Linked DNA regions of Homo sapiens. The protein of the gene in region 4 purifies or fractionates together with the protein of the main gene of each other region. This does not show direct contact. Each region holds a gene or a part of one and is shown on either strand. Other genes may lie near its edges. The genes, in order: NCS1, POGLUT2, NCALD and MAP3K11.

Region 1 (4,273 bases), on a different chromosome or scaffold from region 4:
ATATATTAAAAATAACAGGGCCAGGCACGGTGGCTCACACCTGTAATTCCAGCACTTTGGAAGGCCAAGGTGGGTGGATCATCTGAGGTCAGGAGTTCGAGACCAGCCTGGCCAACATGGCGAAACCCCATTTCTACTAAAAACACAAAAATTAGCCAGGTGTGGTGGCACATGCCTGTAATCCCAGCTACTTGGGAGGCTGAAGCAGGAGAATTGCTTGAACCCAGGAGGCAGAGATTGTAGTGGGCCGAGATTGTGCCACTGCACTCCAGCCTGAGCAACAGAGCGAGACTCTGTCTATAAATAAATAAACAAATAAAATAAAGGGATGGGGCATTGGGCTGCCAGGGCCGAGGTATCAGTGGCTGGAGCTGAGTGCGTGGGAGAGCCCGGGGCCTGGGATGTTACCCAGAGGAGCACCCCTCTCCTTCCCCCAACTCCAGCCCCCACCTCCTCCCCACAGTCCACTCTGCTCCCACAATTATGGTGTGGCCTGCTACAGTCAACATTAGAAAATAAAATAGTGCATTGAGAGGAGGAGCTTTTGCATAAATAAAGTTCTCTTTTATTTCTTAAAAAAAAAAAAAAGAAAGAAAGAAAAAGAAAAAGAAACTGCAGGGTCTTCTTGCTGCCGATGGACTGAAGTGTGAAAGTCTTACTGAGCAGGGAGTTCTGGCCAGCTGGTTTCCATCTTCCCTCCCCTCCACGCACCCTGCATTCCTCCTAATGCCGCCAGGGGCCTGCACAGCTTCCCCTCCCAACTCCCTCTCAGCCTCCCTCCACTGGGCCTCGCACACGCGGGCCCCCTGGCTGGAGCCCTTAACGCCCCCTCCCCAGCTCCTCTCATCCCCAGCTCCTCTCATCCCCAGCTCTGCGCCTACCAGGCAGGTCCTCTCCTGCTCACAACTCCCTCTCTCCTCCTTGCCTGCAGTTTCCTGAGGTTTTTTTTTAAATCCTGCTGCCACTCTAGACTGATCGCCCTGAGAGCAGGGACCCATCTATCTTATCCCCCAGTGGATCCCTGGTACCAACACGTGGCTGCATTCAGTCGTTATTTGGTCAATGAATGAGTGAGTAAGTGAATGACTGAAAGCAAGAATCAAAGCAATGGCTATGAAAGAGGTGGGTCCGGCACTGAACCTGGGTCTTGGGTCCCCACCGACCCTCCTGCGGCCCAAGTCTGCACCTGCCCGAGTGCAGCCAAGGCTCCTGCCAGCCTCTGCCCCCAGCCCTCCCTGTCCACCTGCCTCAGCGAGCTCCTTCCTGCTGCCGGTGCCTCCAGGAAACCCTCCCACCTGGAAGCACAGATGTCTGCGCTGCTCTCTGAACCCTGGACAGTCAGCCTGGCCTAGTTACGTGGCCGTGTGAGGGCCACCTGCCCAGGGCCCAGGCCTGCCCTCTGCAGACACAGCTGGGACGCCATCTGTGGTCACTGCAGTGGGTGTCTGGCACCCCTGCCTGGTGAGGGCCGAGGGCTGCCTCCCTCTGACCTGGGCCCTCCAGCTGCTGCCACACAGGGCCAAGGGGGCAGGACTTACACCGTAGCTTCTCATCCAGGGTTCCCCGTGAGGTCACCGACAGCGCCTGGATGAACTCGGAGAACTCAATTCGCCCGTCCTGACAGGAGAGAGAGGGGATTGCCTCAGTCAGTGCCGGCCAGGCCACCGGGTCAGGCTGAACCTCGGGACGGGCGAGGGGCAGTCGCAGGCTCCAGACACTGTGGCCAATGGACACTCAGGTGGAGAGGGCAGGCTCGAAGGAATGGGGGGCGAGAGGCAAGGAGAGGGTGGGGAGCAGAGGCTGGGGGACTGTGTGGGGGGTTAGAAGTGGGAGAGGCCAGGAGGGAGGCACAGGAAGAAGGACTGAGGCTGAACGGAGAGGCTTACTCCACTCTTGATGGGAGAAGGTGCCAGAAGCACCAATGCCTGAGCTCCTCTCAGCAACAGCCCGGAAGCCCCTCGGCCTAGAGCTGTGGGCTCATGGGCTTTTGCAGAGGAAAGGCCGCTGCAGGTTGTTTAATTCCACCTCTTATTTGCAAATGAAGAAACCGAGGCCCAAGAAGGGAAGAGCCCTTCCCAGGGTCAGGCATGTGACTCCCAGCCTGGGGGCACCTGGGAGAAGCTGGGGATGGGATAGAATAGAAACCTCCACGGTGCCAGCAGCAGGGGGTACAGAGACAAGTGGCAGTAAATCCACCCTCAAATGCTACTGCAGGACAGAATCAGGGTCATCGCAGATAACCCAACAGCTATCCGTGCAGCCACTGCCCGGAGGTGACACAAGCTACCACATGGTAAGTCTTGAAAACATGATGCTCAGTGGAAAACGCCAGGAACAAAAGATCCTATAGCCTACGATTCTCAGAGCCTCAGTTTCCTGACCTACAAAATGGGTATTAAAATACCCAGCTCCCAGGTGCTTGTAAGGCCTCATTAAAAATAATCCATGTATGGCCGGGCAAGGGGGCTTACACCTGAAATCCCAGCACTTTGGGAGACCAAGGTGGGTGGATCATCTGAGGTCAGGAGTTCAAGACCAGCCTGGGCAATACGGTGAAACCCCATCTCTACTAAAAATACAAAAATTAGCCAGGTGTGGTGACGGCGCCTGTAATCCCAGCTTCTCAGGAGGCTGAGGCAGGGGAATTGCTTGAATCTGGGAGGCAGAGGTTGCAGTGAATTGAGACTGCACCACTGCACTCCAGCCTCGGCAACAGAGCAAGACTCTGTCTCAAAAAAAAAAAAAATCCATGTAAAGAGCTTAAACATAGTAAATGTTCAGGAAATATTGGTTATTATTATTAATCCTGTTATTATCATGGGAGGTATTTGCATTTTATGCTTGTAAGAGAAGTGTCAGGGTGTACATGTGTATACATGCATGTGTGTTGTGCACTGTATACATATGCATATGTGTATATGTCTCTCTGTGTGTACACGTGTGTGCACCTGCAAGTCCATGCATTGTGTGCATATGTGTGCATTTCTGTGCACTGTATGAATATACATGTATGTTCACGTGTGTGGCTGCATCTCCATGTATGTGTGCCCACATGTGTGCATGGTATTCGCCTGCATGTGCACATACACGTCTGTGTGAGAGCTTGGATGTGCATGTCAGTACATGTGTGGGTGTACATATGTGTGCACACATGTGCATGCATTTGGATGCATCTGTGTTTATTGTGTGTCTGCATGTGTACATGTGCATGCATTTATGTGCGACTATGTATCTGTGCATGTCAGTATGCACTCGTGTGTGTGTTCCTTCTCTAGAAGGGAACATCGGCAGGAGAGAGTGGGTGTGGAGACGCTGCGGGTACCCACAGGAGCTGAGCCAGCTGCCGCAGGCCCCATCAATCCCCAGCTCACCTTGTTTTCATCAAAGACGTTGAAAACAAATGTGGCAAACTTGGTGGGGTCTCCGAACGGGAAGAATTGCTTGTAGATCTTCTGGAAGCCTGCCGCATCCAGCTGCCCACTGGGGCAGTCCTTGATGAAGCCTTTGTACCTGGAGGCAGCAGACCGGGCCAGAGAGGGTAAAGGAGACGCCAACATCACCCACCCACCACCAACATCGCCTGCCCGGGGCCCAGGAAAGCTGTGGCTCCTTGTTCAAAGAGATGGTGCCCCATGGGGCCATGGACTTGATAGGCACAGGCGCAGTCCCACCTCTGCCTCTCACTAGCAGTGTGACCTTGGATACAGACTTCACCTCTCCTAGCCTCGTCTGCATAAGGGGGTTACGAACTGACATAGGAATTAACCCAGATACTGCACACAGAGTGAGCACTTGGCCACCCAGCCCTGTGCTCCACCCAAGGGGGCTAAAACAAGAGTCACATGAATGGCCTCCCCAAAGCCGCATGCCTGCACAAGACCCTCCCACCTCCCCACCTTCTCTGCTGAGCCCCTCCTGGCATCAGGCTGGGTGGGCTGCTGCTGGTGCTGGTGGGTAGACCACCATATGGAGCCAGCAGGTGGCTCCTCCCACATGCCCACACCCTGCCCCTCAGTCTCTGTTCCCAGGGAACTGGGTAAACAGCATGGGGGGATCCTGGCTGTTCCAACTGGACTTGTCCACCCTGCAGTCCCAGTGCCCAGCACAAAACCCTCCAGATCCCTACGTGGCTGACGCCGGAATGGCTTTGCACTCCCAATCCCAGGACAGATCTCTGCCATTCACTGCCTGTACAGCCTCAAGCAAACGCCCTCACCTGTCTGAGCCTCAGTTTCCTCATCCATAACAAGGGATGGTTCTCATACCCCTCTTG
Region 2 (3,371 bases), on a different chromosome or scaffold from region 4:
AGGACAAACCGTGTAAAATGAATAAACTGGGGGGATTTACCATGTGAATTTCTAAGGATCCATGGGGCAGTGTTCATTCATTTAGCATAGGTACTTAGCACAGTGCTTCACTCAGAGTAAGCACATGATAAATGAAGATGATGATGGAGGCTTGTGCAAGCCATGATAAGGAAAGCAGAATAGTCTCTGTCTTCACATTCTCAGTCTAGGGAAGATTGTGTGCAAAATTATTTTTACTGTGAGGCAGAAGACGGTTAAAAAAAAAAGTCATGGAAATTTAGGATAGCATAAAGAGGTGTCTGTTAGGAATAGGCAGCCAGTGTTCAAAGGATGGCCTCCTCTCAGATGCTCTACTGTTGATGTTCAGAACTGGTATATATGACGGACTATGCAGATCACAGTTTGACACACATGAGTTAAATGAATCATAGTCTTCATATATTCTAGCCTCTCTCATTGGGTGGATATAAAGTGTTTTATAAGGAATGCTTTTATATTGTTGCTTAAACAGGAATATGCCAATTTACAAGTGAGTGAGCCCCAAATCCGAGAGGGCATGAAAAGGGTAGAACCACAGACTGAGGACGACCTCTTCCCTTGTACTTGCCATAGGAAAAAGGTAACCAGAACTGAGCTTATGGCCGGTGTCAGAGTAAAAACTAACATTGATCCAAACTTGCTTTTATTCCTATAGTCATTCAATCAGGCAGCAAATATTTGAGTTCCTCTCGAGGTCTCCAAGCAATTCAGTCTGCCAGAGAGATAGGTATAAAAGATAGCAGTGCTCAAGAAAGGATGCTACAATGCAGTTAATTGAGAAGACATGGTAGCTCCCTGGCAAAGTGGGGGGAAGTCTTTTATAATGTGAGAATCCAGCTCACACCCTATTTGAATGGATGCTTACAGTCTGAAAAATATTTTCATGTGTATCATCTGATGCCCTCATCTCCTCATGAGATAAGTTTGGCAAAGTTCATCATCCCAGTTTAGAGAAGGAAAAATATGTAACCACGATTATTAATGTTTTCCAATTCTTCATTTGAAAGTCATCTCAGTTGATACCACTACATAAGGATCTCATTGATAAAAATGAAAGTCAGATTCACATCTGGACTTTTAAGGTAGAAAGGACCTTAGAAGTCATCCAGTAAATGCCTTCATTTTATGGTTAACAAAACTGAGCCCAAAAAGGAATTGTGCTCAAAATCATCTAGCTGGATTATAGCAAAGCAAAAACCAATCTCTCATCATCAGATTGTGATTGTGTGTGCTTGTATATAAAGCTATAGTGTGGCAGGGGACTGTTGCTTTGATTATGATTTTTGTTTGTTTGAAGGAATGTAAATTGCATAAACTAGAGTGTGTGTGTGTGTGTGTGTGTGTGTGTGTGTGTGTGTGTAACATATGCTGACTTAACATTTTAGGCAACATAATTAGGTTTCTGAATGGACAAGTTCAAAATTGTGGTATTATAACCAAAGACAAGAAGGCAGATTTGGCAATTATTATGTCTACCTCTCAAGGAGGTGTAAAAGGAATTAAGGTGAGGCTGGCCCCAGTGATGTGACAGAACCAGCTTATATGAGCTCACTGATAAATATTCAGGAATTTTGCATACTAGTTAAATTTTTGGTAGCTTGGAATCATCCTGATAGGAGTATTTACACCATGACAATCAGCACATGCTACAAATCAGAATTTTGGCTGTTTTATTTTTGTCTTTGTTTTTTATAGAACTCATTAACCACTAACCAACTGGCCCTCAGAGGTGGTTCGTCATCATTGTGAACTCTGTCAGTGCTCCAAGGCCATAAAAATCAGTTAAAACCAATGATAAAACAAGAATTGCCAAATCGAAAGGTTCCCCCTCACCAATCCGTGATTTGGTATCAGAACACTTCTCACTTTGGCTCTAAGTGAGACTGGCAGCTTCCTTGCTCCACTCCTGCTCAGTTATTTATCTTCATCTACGTGATTGAGAGGAGGTACCCAGCCAGTTTCTTCCACTGAGTAGTAGAAGTTAGGGGCCAGAATGATAGCTTCGTTTATTTTTTGCTCATTGTCTATCCTAGTCTTTCACCACTACTGTTCATAACATGAGGCCTTTACAGTAGTACAGCCCATGGATGTTTGGGTTCCTTATCAGTAGGCTATGAAACACAATGTGATTTTACCCTTAGCTGACTCTGGGCCTCTGGAAATAGTCCCAAGCCCTAAAAGCCTCTAGCAGCAGCTTGGCTCCCTCTCATCTTTACAGGAAAATAATTAACGAATGTAAGTCTTCTTCACTTGTGTAAGACTTCTTGATAGCTCTAAATATTTTGCTTCTTAATTGCAGACCAAAGATGAACTCTGATATGCAAAATAACTTCTATTAGAATAATGGTGCTCTGAAGACTCTTCTTAACTAAAAAGAAGAATTTTTTTAAGTATTAATTCCATGGACAATATAAAATCTGTGTGATTGTTTGCAGTATGAAGACACATTTCTACTTATGCAGTATTCTCATGACTGTACTTTAAAGTACATTTTTAGAATTTTATAATAAAACCACCTTTATTTTAAAGGACTACGTTGTGCTAATTATTAGCCGTGTTTGGAACAGAGAGCAGTAAAAACAGAGAGAATCTGGGTCCTTAATGCACAGCAGCCCAGACCACCTGCCCAGACTGGTTTTAAATGACAAAGCAATGAACCCCTGTCTCCTTTTAAGCCCATATTATTGTGGGTATTCAGCCAAACTTAATTCTAGCTAATACTTCGTACAAGGCCAGTCATTAGATGGCCTCTACCTGCATCTTTAGTCAAATCTCTCAGCACTTTCTAGTATCAATACTGTCCTCTGGAAGAACGAGTCCTCTCCCAGTTCTGTCAATGCCTGTGTCCTTACCTTCCTGGCTCTTGCCTTTCCCTTGTCCTGGAATGTCTTGGCCCTCTTTTCTTCAACCGGCTTACACATCCTTCAGCACATATTTTATCCTTACTAGATTTTAAGTGCCATGACCTCAGAGACCAGGCCTTTCTTCTGGGTAGTCCTAACGTCTAATAGAGTGCCAGCAACTAGAAAGACTGAATAAATATCTAATGGGTGATATGGTTTTGATGTTTGTCCCTTCCAAATCTTATGTTGAAATGTAATTCTGAGTGGTGGAGGTGGGGCCCGGTGGGAGATGTTTGTATCTTAGGGGTGGATCCCTCATGAATGGCCTGGCACCATCCTTGCAGTGACAAGTGAGTTCTCACTGTGAGTTCACATGATCTGGTGGTTTTAAAAGGTGTGGCACCTCCCCCTCTCTCTGTGTTGCTCCCTCTCTTGCCACCTGATACCCTGGCTCCACTTTGCCTTCCACCATGATTGGAAGCTTCCTGA
Region 3 (4,273 bases), on a different chromosome or scaffold from region 4:
ATTTGGCTGTGAATCCATCTGGTCCTGGGCTTTTTTAGGTTGGTAGGCTATTAATTACTGCCTCAATTTCAGAACTTGTTATTGGTCTATTCAGGGATTTAACTTCTTTCTGGTTTAGTCTTGGGAGGGTGTATGTGTCCAGGAATTTATACATTTCTTCTAGATTTTCCCGTTTATTTGCATAGAGATGTTTATAGTATTCTCTGATGATAGTTTATATTTCTGTGGTGTCGGTGGTGATATACCCTTTATCATTTTTTATTGTGTCTATTTGATTATTCTCTCTTTTCTTCTTTATTAGTCTAGCTAGTGGTCTATTTTGTTAATTTTTTCAAAAAAACAGCTCCTGGATTCATTGATTTTTGAAGGGTTTTTTGTGTCTCTGTTTCCTTCTGTTCTGCTCTAATCTTAGTTATTTCTTCTCTTCTGCTAGCTTTTGGATTTGTTTGCTCTTGCTTCCCTAGCTCTTTTAATTGTGATGTTAGAGTGGCGATTTGAGATCCTTCTAGCTTTCTGATGTGGGCATTTAGTGCTATAAATTTCCCTCTTAACACAGCTTTAGCTGTCTCCCAGAGATTCTGGTATGTTGCAAATGACTACTTTTCAATTCTCTGAACACCACTGACTGCAAGTAAGGAAGGGAAGAGAGGTAAATTTGGGAAATGAATGTGAATAGGAAAATCAAATTTAATGTCACTTCCATCTTTTGTTGCTCGTTGGAGAAATACAGATCCCTAAACACTGTGAGGCCTCAGTGGTCTTTCCCTGCTTGCTCTAGAGCCACATTGTGTACTGAACGCCCCCACACTCTGTTGACCTCCTTGCCACGCTCCCACTCTGGGCTTCCACATGGTGTTTTGCTCACCCCTGATTTATTTAAGCCCTATGCTTTCTTCACGTCTTTGTGCAATCATCATTCCTCAGAGAAGCCTACCCTAACCCTCCTGGCAAAACCTAACTCTCCCACTATATCATCACAGAAGCCATGCACTCTTCTTTCTAGCACTTTTCTCAACAATGGTTTTACATGTATTTCTTTATTTTACTAATGTCTGCCTTATTTCACAGCAAAAACCATGAGGGAAAGGATTAGGTCAATGTCAATACCTGGTACACATTAGTTGCTTATACATATTTGATGAATGACTGAGTGAGTGGATGGATGAAGAGGCAGTCACCTAAGAGCAGGGATTTCCATGACCTGGGGTCTATGGATCAGCTTCTAAATACCCAAACCTCTGAGATCGTCTGCAATGGTGGGTGGGTTTGCATGGTTTCTAAGGGAAAAGCTCAAATCTTTTGACAGATTAAGTCTTTAAGGGGTTTCACATGAATATGTTTAATTATGTGAAGAGAGAGAGAAGAAAAAGAAAAGAGGAAACTAAAAAAAACATATAAAAGGATAAAGGGGAACTTTATAAATTGGAGCAGTGCAGAATAAAGGTGAGAGAGGGAAAGAATGAGAGGGCAACTGGGGGACAGTTATTCCTGAATAAATTCTTTAAACTAAGTGAAGTTGACTGTATTCAAGACCCTATGTTAGGTACTATCAGGGATTCAAAAAATAGATGTGACTGCTACCCTCACATCTAAAAGGAGAACATTCTGGGTGTGAATTCAAGGTAAATGGAAGGAAGTGATATGAGAGAGGTTGGGTTGGAGCCCCTTGCTAGCACAGAGGGAGGGAGATTGCACATAGCAATAGAAGAAGGGAAGATGATGGAAGGCTTCCTGGAGGAGGGTAACATTTTGATCTGCTCTTAACACATGGGTAAGAGTCCAAGGAGGAGGGGAGATGGGGTAGGTGAGCACTCAGGTGAGAGAAGAATATAAACAAAGCTGCTGGTCCAGGACACCAAGGAGCGTATCATGTTGTCAGACTCTTGACAACAGCCTTTGTGGAGCATCTGAGCTGGGAGACACCTCCTATGGCCAGTCACAGGCACAAAGCCAGTGGCATCTAGAAGGACCACGTGAGACAAACTTACTGAGGCCAGAACAGACTTGGAGAAGGAACAATCCAGCCCCAAAGAAGATTGATAATGAATAAATACACAGCCCCCTTAAAACTTCTGGCAAAAATAAACTTATCCCTTGTCTGTAAGTGCTCTTCCCCGCAACACCTCTGCAACTCCTGAAACAGCTCCATGCGCTCTCCTTTAAGGAGGTTGTGCTAATGTGATCTGCAGGGATGCCAATTTCTAAATGTTGTGTTATTGTTGTCCTAAGATTCCTGGGCTTATGAATTCACCAAATATTTAGATCATATGAGCTTGAAATGTATGTGAGGGGTGTGCATGTTTTCATAGTTGGTGCCGATTCCATTTTGACTATGTCAAGAGTTACGAAAAGCTTCCACTGTGGGAGCAAAGCAAGCTGGGGAGAGGTTGCTAGACCTCAAGACTTTTGCTGGTGTGAAAAGACACCTGCTGTCTACTGTTACTAAATATTCACCTGGGCGTGTTAAATCTCAGGGCCTCTCTTCTCCCATTTGCAAAAACAGCTCCATCTCTCCGGCCTTTCCTAGCTCCCCCAAGAACTTACGTGTCCCCGGCAGTGAGGCACATGGCACTACAGCCCCAGCACAGTTGGTGGAGCAGACCTGGGCTGGGATGACAGCAGGCAGGGGACCATGATGAGGAGGGCAGACGATGGCTCCCCTCTTGTCTCCAGAGCACACTTCAGTGAGCATTTCTTGGGAATGAAATGGCTCAGCTTACCCCAGGGACACCCATAATCCTAGACAGCACCCTAACTCTGCGCTTTACCTCCCAGACCAAGTCGCTGCAGAGTCAGCTATGGAGTTCAGTAAGCACATTGGGTGGGTTTGAGACAGACTCAGGGAGCCTGTCCAGAAGCATCCCTGAGGGATGGGATCAGCCTAAGGGCCAGCACACTGGGTGAGTCTGTTTTCATTCTTATTTTGACTGAGATTAGAGTACTTACCCTACCTTATCCAGAACATGTTAGGAACTTCTGGCAGGGTTGGTCCTGAGCAAGACTGTAAAGCAGCTCAGGTGAAGCTTCAGTGTCTTTTTCTGCTCTCACCTTTCCCATTTGGAGGCGACTCCCCTCAGCTGCTTTCCTTTCTCTGTCCTCTGCACCTGCCTTGCTGCCCCTAGAGCTCCAGAACTCTCTGAAATTTTCTGCCTACTCCCTGGCAAAATCTATTTTTTCTAAAAATTGTCCCCAGGGCCAAGATGCCCAAAGTGACTCTGATTAGCAAAGTCATGATCTGGGGATAAAAACAATGACTTTTCATTCCTCTTCCCAAATAAAAACTACCTTTGACCACAGAGGTCAAAGGGCCCTTACTGAGTCCCATGTGGAGGTCACAGGCATGGGGTGATAGTTTCAGTAGTGCTTACAAAACTCCACAGAATCCTCTTTCGCCCATCAGATCTCATAGCTGTACCCAGTTTAGCTCAGGCCTGAGGATGCATAATAATTCAGAGCTCTGATGGCAGGTGGTTTCCATCTCAGGACTGCCTGGAAGCTTGCTGAGAAGGAACTTGAGACCATTGTCACACACAGGGAGAAAAGCACTGGAATGGACTAGAAGTCTGCCTGGGGAAACATGTGGCATGCACTTACAGAGTGTTACATGTCTGTCATCCTTGAGGAGTCATTGTGGACTCTCAAGGGTCCATGATAGGCATCCACTTGCCTCTCTAGCCTGAAGAATGTCATCTGCAGCCTTGCTCCTCAAAGTGGGAACCTTGCTTTTCAAAGCAGCGTCTTCAGAACAGCAGCATCAGCATCACACCGGAGCTTATTAAAAATACAGACTCTCAGCCCCACCCCTTTCCCCCACACTACCCAATCAGATTCTGCATTTTAACAAGATTCCCAGGGGATTTGTATGCACATAAACAATGGAGACGGCTAGGAGAGGTGGCGCATGTCTGTAATCCCAGCACTTTGGGAGGCTGAGGGAGGAGAAGCTTGAGCCCAGGAGTTCGAGACCAGCTTGGGCAACATAATGAGACCTTGTCTGTACAGAAAAAAAAAAAAAAAAAAAAAAAAAAAAAAAAACGCCCTGTGTGGTGGGGAGTACCTCTAGTCCCAGCTGCTGCTCAGGAGACTGAGGTGGGAGGATTGCTTGAGCCTATGAAATGGAGCCTGCAGTGAGCCGTAAGCGTGCCACTACACTCCAGCCTGGGTGACAGAATGAGACCCTGTCTCAAAAAACAATCAAAAAACATTGGAGACACAGGGGTCTACTGGGTCTTCCTGCTGGTTGTCCCTCCTGAAGGTCCTCACTGGAGGAGAA
Region 4 (4,255 bases):
GGGCAGTAGAACCTTTGCTCTCCACCATTTCCCAGCCAGACTCTGCCCTAGATTTCAAGACACTAGTGTCCTACCTTCCAGTCTAGGGTTGGCCTGACTCCATTCTAGACCACTTGGGCAGGGATGGGGAACCCCTCATTAAGGACAAGGGACTCTAGGATGGGCTCTCACAAGCCCTGATTTTGTCAGATCCCTCCTTGGCTCTAGAAACTGCTGTGGCTCTCCACTGTCACTAGGAGAAAGTCTGGCCTCCTTGGCTGGTCCTCTGAAGCCCTCCCTGGCCTTGTCCCTCTGCCTTTCCCCTCCTGCCTGGAGTGCAGCAGCAGGTTGGATGTCGGGAGGGAGAAATACAAGGCTGGGAAAAATGAGCTTCTACTATGAACCAGGACTTAGCTCACAGTCCCTTCTGTCAGCCCCAACCCTTACTCAGACTCTCTGCCTCTTACCTCACCCAACTCCCACCCCGGCCACTGCCACTGAAGGGACAAGGGAATCCTTCTAAAATGCAAACCTGTTAAAGACAGGTCTCTGCTTAAAAACTACCCATCACTTCCAGCTTCATTCACTCATTCATTCAATCAACATCTACTGACCCATGTGCCTTGGCCCCTGTCCGCAGCCCCAGTCCTGAGACTCCTCGGCTCTCAACTCTTCTCGGAGTTCAGCCAGGTTGCCTTTTCCTTGGGTATGGTGAGCTGCATGCCTGCGCACACACTATTCACTCTGGGTGGCTGACCTTTCCCACCTTGGCTTTCAGTGACCTCTTATGCACCATCCAAGACCAACTGGGATGTCACTTCCTCTGTGAAGCCCTCCCAGAATCTCCCTGAACCTACACAGTTATTGCTCACGTTATGCCTCATAGAGGTGCTACTGGACTTGTTTATGAGTCTGCCTGCTTCATCATATGAGGTCAGGGCAGTGTTTAACATGTTGATGCCTGGCTCTTAAAATGCAAATCCCTGGGCCAGGCGCGGTGGCTCACATCTGCAATCCCAGCACTTTGGGAGGCCCAGGTGGGATGATCACGAGGTCAGGAGATCGAGACCATCCTGGCTAACACGGTGAAACCCTGTCTCTACTAAAAACACAAAAAATTAGCCAGGCGTGGTGGTGGGCGCCTGTAGTCCCAGATACTCAAGAGGCTGAGGCAGGAGAATGGCATGAACCCAGGAGGCGGAGCTTGCAGTGAGCCAAAATCACACCACTGCACTCCAGCCTGGGCAACAGAGCGAGACTCCGTCTCAAAAAAAAAAAAAAGCAAATTCTTGTTTGATGAAGAATCCATTTTTATAATCCTTGCACCAACCACGAGGTTATCATATCACCCCCACTTCGCAGGTGAAGAACTGATCATTTACAGTGAGTTTAAACAGAAGAGGGGAAATCATGTTTAAAAAAAAGAAAGAGTTGGCCGGGTGCGGTGGCTCACACCTGTAATCCCAGCACTTTGGGAGGCCAAGGTGGGCGGATCACGAGGTCAAGAAATCGAGACCATCCTGGCCAACATGGTGAAACCCTGTCTCTACTAAAAAATACAAAAATTAGCAGGGCATGGTGGCACGCACCTGTAGTCTCAGCTACTTGGGAGGCTGAGGCAGGAGAATCGCTTGAACCCAGGAGGCGGAGGTTACAGTGAGCCGAGATCCCGCCACTGCGCTCCAGCCTGGGTGACAGAGTGAGACTCCATCTCAAAAAAAAAAAAAAAAAAAGCAAGAGAGGCTGGGAGTGGTGGCTCAAGCCTATAATCCCAGCACTTTGGGAGGCCAAGTAGGGCAGATCACTTGAGGTCAGGAGTGCATGACTAGCCTGGCCAACATGGTCAAACCCTGTCTCTACTAAATACAAAAATTAGGCCGGGCATGGTGGTTCACGCTTGTAATCCCAGCACTTTGGGAAGCTGAAGCAGGTGGCTCACTTGAGGTCAGGAGTTCGGGACCAGCCTGGTCAACATGGTGAAACCTCATCTCTACTACAAATACAAACATTAGCCGGGCATTGTGGCACATGCCTGTAATCCCTGCTACTTGGGAGGCTGAGGCAGGAGAATCACTTGAACCTGGGAGGTGGAGGTTGTAGTGAGCCGAGATTGCACCACTGCCCTCCAGCCTGGGCAACAGAATGACACTTCATCTCAAAAAAAAAAAAATTAGCTGGGCATGGTGGCACATGCCTGTAATCCCAGCTACTGGGGAGGCTGAGGGAGAATTGCTTGAACGTGGGAGGTGGAGGCTGAAGTGAGCTGAGGTCGCACCACTGCACTCCAGCCTGGGTGACAGAACAAGACTCCTTCTAAAAAAAAAAAAAGAAAATAGCAAGAGCAAGCTGGGTGTGGTGGCTCACACCTGTAATGCCAGCACTTTGGGAGGCTGGGGTGGGTGGACTACTTAAGCGCAGCCCAGCCTGGGCAACATGGCAAAACCCCATCTCTACAAAAAATATAAAAATTAGCCAAGCATGGCATGCACCTGTAGTCCCTGCTACTCAGGAAGCTGAGGTGGGAGGATCACTTGAGCCTGGGAGGCAGAGTTTGCAGTGAGCCATGATCATGCCATTGCAGTCCAGCCTGGGTAACAGAATGAGACTCTATCTTTAAAAAAATAAAAGACAGAAATGAGACAAAGGGAAGAGAAGATAGGGTCCAGCAGACAAAATGAGAGTGAACAGAAGTTCCTGCAGTCAATGGCCTGAGAAACTGAGGTTCTGAAGGGTAAGGGACTTGGTCAACATAATCCAGCTAGGATTTGAATCTGCCTCTAAGCTTCCTGGCAGCAAGAGTTAGCAACTCTGTTGTTTAGGAGAAAGCTGCGTGACTATTCTTGACCCAAAGATAGATAGATAGAGGCGAAACTGCTTCCGTGAGGTCTCACAGGGAGGACACAGCCACGTAGTTATTGGCTCTAAGGCAACAAGCTTCACAGGGCAGTTGCTATCAGCGTAGCTGAGTGCACCCTGCCAATGTGCCACTCCTTGCAGCCAGCTCTCCAGGGACCAGAACAGCCCACTGGGGACAGGGTGAGGGTGTGTGTGACTCTCCAGTGGTATGGCTTATGCCGGGGACCATCTCACAGGGTCTGGGACCTCTGTGAAGCCCCATTATTTGATTCTTAGCTGGGTTTCGGGGGGTGGCTGTGAGGTCAATGTCATGTACTTTCATGGACCCAGATGATGCGTGGAGTGTGGGATTGGGCTAGGGGAACCAGATGCTCAGCCAGCCACTGAGCTGGGCAGCTGACATCCTTTCAGGGCAAGTGGCAATCCATTTCTTCATCAGCCAGGAAGGGCACTGGTGTTGAGGCCGACATACTTATCAAGAACAGTAACTACCATGGTTTCCAGTGCTTTCATGAAACCTCAGACATGTGGCCTTCTGGCCACACATCTGCAATTTCATATTGTGGGAGCATTCACTGTATCCCTGGGGGCTGCGGCTCTCTCAGTTTGCAGGGGCTGGACCAAGAAAGAAGGCATTTCAGATTTCTATGGGCACAGATGTCTACAGAAGTTATGATGCCATGAAATACTTCGAGGAGATGAGGAAGGCTGCTATCTCTCAGAATGCAAAGTGATTTTGGAATATGAAGAATTTCTTTGGGTTGAATTACTTAGAAGTTTGTCACTGATCTGAACTATTCATGAATATATGGGCTAATAAGTAGTTTCTCTTCATAAATAATTAACAAATTCTTTGGATAAAAAAACATGGGGCAAGCTTGAGAACGATGGGGCCCAGGCCCCTTGTGCCCCTGCTTCTGGGAGCTGAGGGCCAGAGAGTTCTGTGGAACAGTCAGGACCTGCTTCAGCCTACACACCTGGGTTGACAGGCTCTCAAGTTCTCCTTTGGCCCATCTGGCCTGGTACAATTTAGAGCAAGTGAATTCAAGAAGCCTCCTTGGCCTTCCAGCTCTCAGTTCAGTCCCTGCAGGACAGATGCTGGGGGCAGTGCAGCTGCTGGAGTAGCAAATGGCGGGGCAGATGGAGGCCCAGGGCTCTGCCTCTGTGGTCAGACAGGCAAGAGCAGATCAAATCCCTGCTCTACTGGTTGCCTTACATCAAACCACTTAATCTCTCTGTGCCTCAGTTTTCTCTGTTGTAAAATGCAGGCCAATACTACTACTCCCCTCACAGAACTGCTTGGCACATAGAAGAGAACCAACAAAGGTTAGCTGTTGTTACAACTATCAAGTGTAGCTCAGGGAATGGAAGAGGCGATGGGCTGGGTGGGATGGGAGGAGTGAGTTTAAACGGCTTGCTG

What was found.
Region 1: the proteins of MAP3K11 (region 4) and NCS1 purify together in Homo sapiens (affinity purification with mass spectrometry, with the first as the bait; one large-scale study listed by BioGRID). This does not show direct contact.
Region 2: the proteins of MAP3K11 (region 4) and POGLUT2 purify together in Homo sapiens (affinity purification with mass spectrometry, with the first as the bait; one large-scale study listed by BioGRID). This does not show direct contact.
Region 3: the proteins of MAP3K11 (region 4) and NCALD purify together in Homo sapiens (affinity purification with mass spectrometry, with the first as the bait; one large-scale study listed by BioGRID). This does not show direct contact.

Annotation. Positions count from the first base shown.
Region 1 is NC_000009.12:130,217,069-130,221,341, reverse strand, and holds part of NCS1 (neuronal calcium sensor 1), read right to left. Parts: intron 3,511-4,273; coding exon 3,372-3,510; intron 1,618-3,371; coding exon 1,539-1,617; intron 1-1,538. UniProt on the Homo sapiens protein: Neuronal calcium sensor, regulator of G protein-coupled receptor phosphorylation in a calcium dependent manner. Directly regulates GRK1 (RHOK), but not GRK2 to GRK5. Can substitute for calmodulin. Stimulates PI4KB kinase activity.
Region 2 is NC_000013.11:102,783,480-102,786,850, reverse strand, and holds the end of POGLUT2 (protein O-glucosyltransferase 2 isoform 1 precursor), read left to right. Parts: intron 1-511; coding exon 512-619; intron 620-2,338; coding exon 2,339-2,356; 3' UTR 2,357-2,570; downstream 2,571-3,371. UniProt on the Homo sapiens protein: Protein glucosyltransferase that catalyzes the transfer of glucose from UDP-glucose to a serine residue within the consensus sequence peptide C-X-N-T-X-G-S-F-X-C. Can also catalyze the transfer of xylose from UDP-xylose but less efficiently.
Region 3 is NC_000008.11:101,693,081-101,697,353, reverse strand, and holds part of NCALD (neurocalcin-delta), read left to right. Parts: intron 1-4,273. UniProt on the Homo sapiens protein: May be involved in the calcium-dependent regulation of rhodopsin phosphorylation. Binds three calcium ions.
Region 4 is NC_000011.10:65,600,510-65,604,764, forward strand, and holds part of MAP3K11 (mitogen-activated protein kinase kinase kinase 11), read right to left. Parts: intron 1-4,255. UniProt on the Homo sapiens protein: Activates the JUN N-terminal pathway. Required for serum-stimulated cell proliferation and for mitogen and cytokine activation of MAPK14 (p38), MAPK3 (ERK) and MAPK8 (JNK1) through phosphorylation and activation of MAP2K4/MKK4 and MAP2K7/MKK7.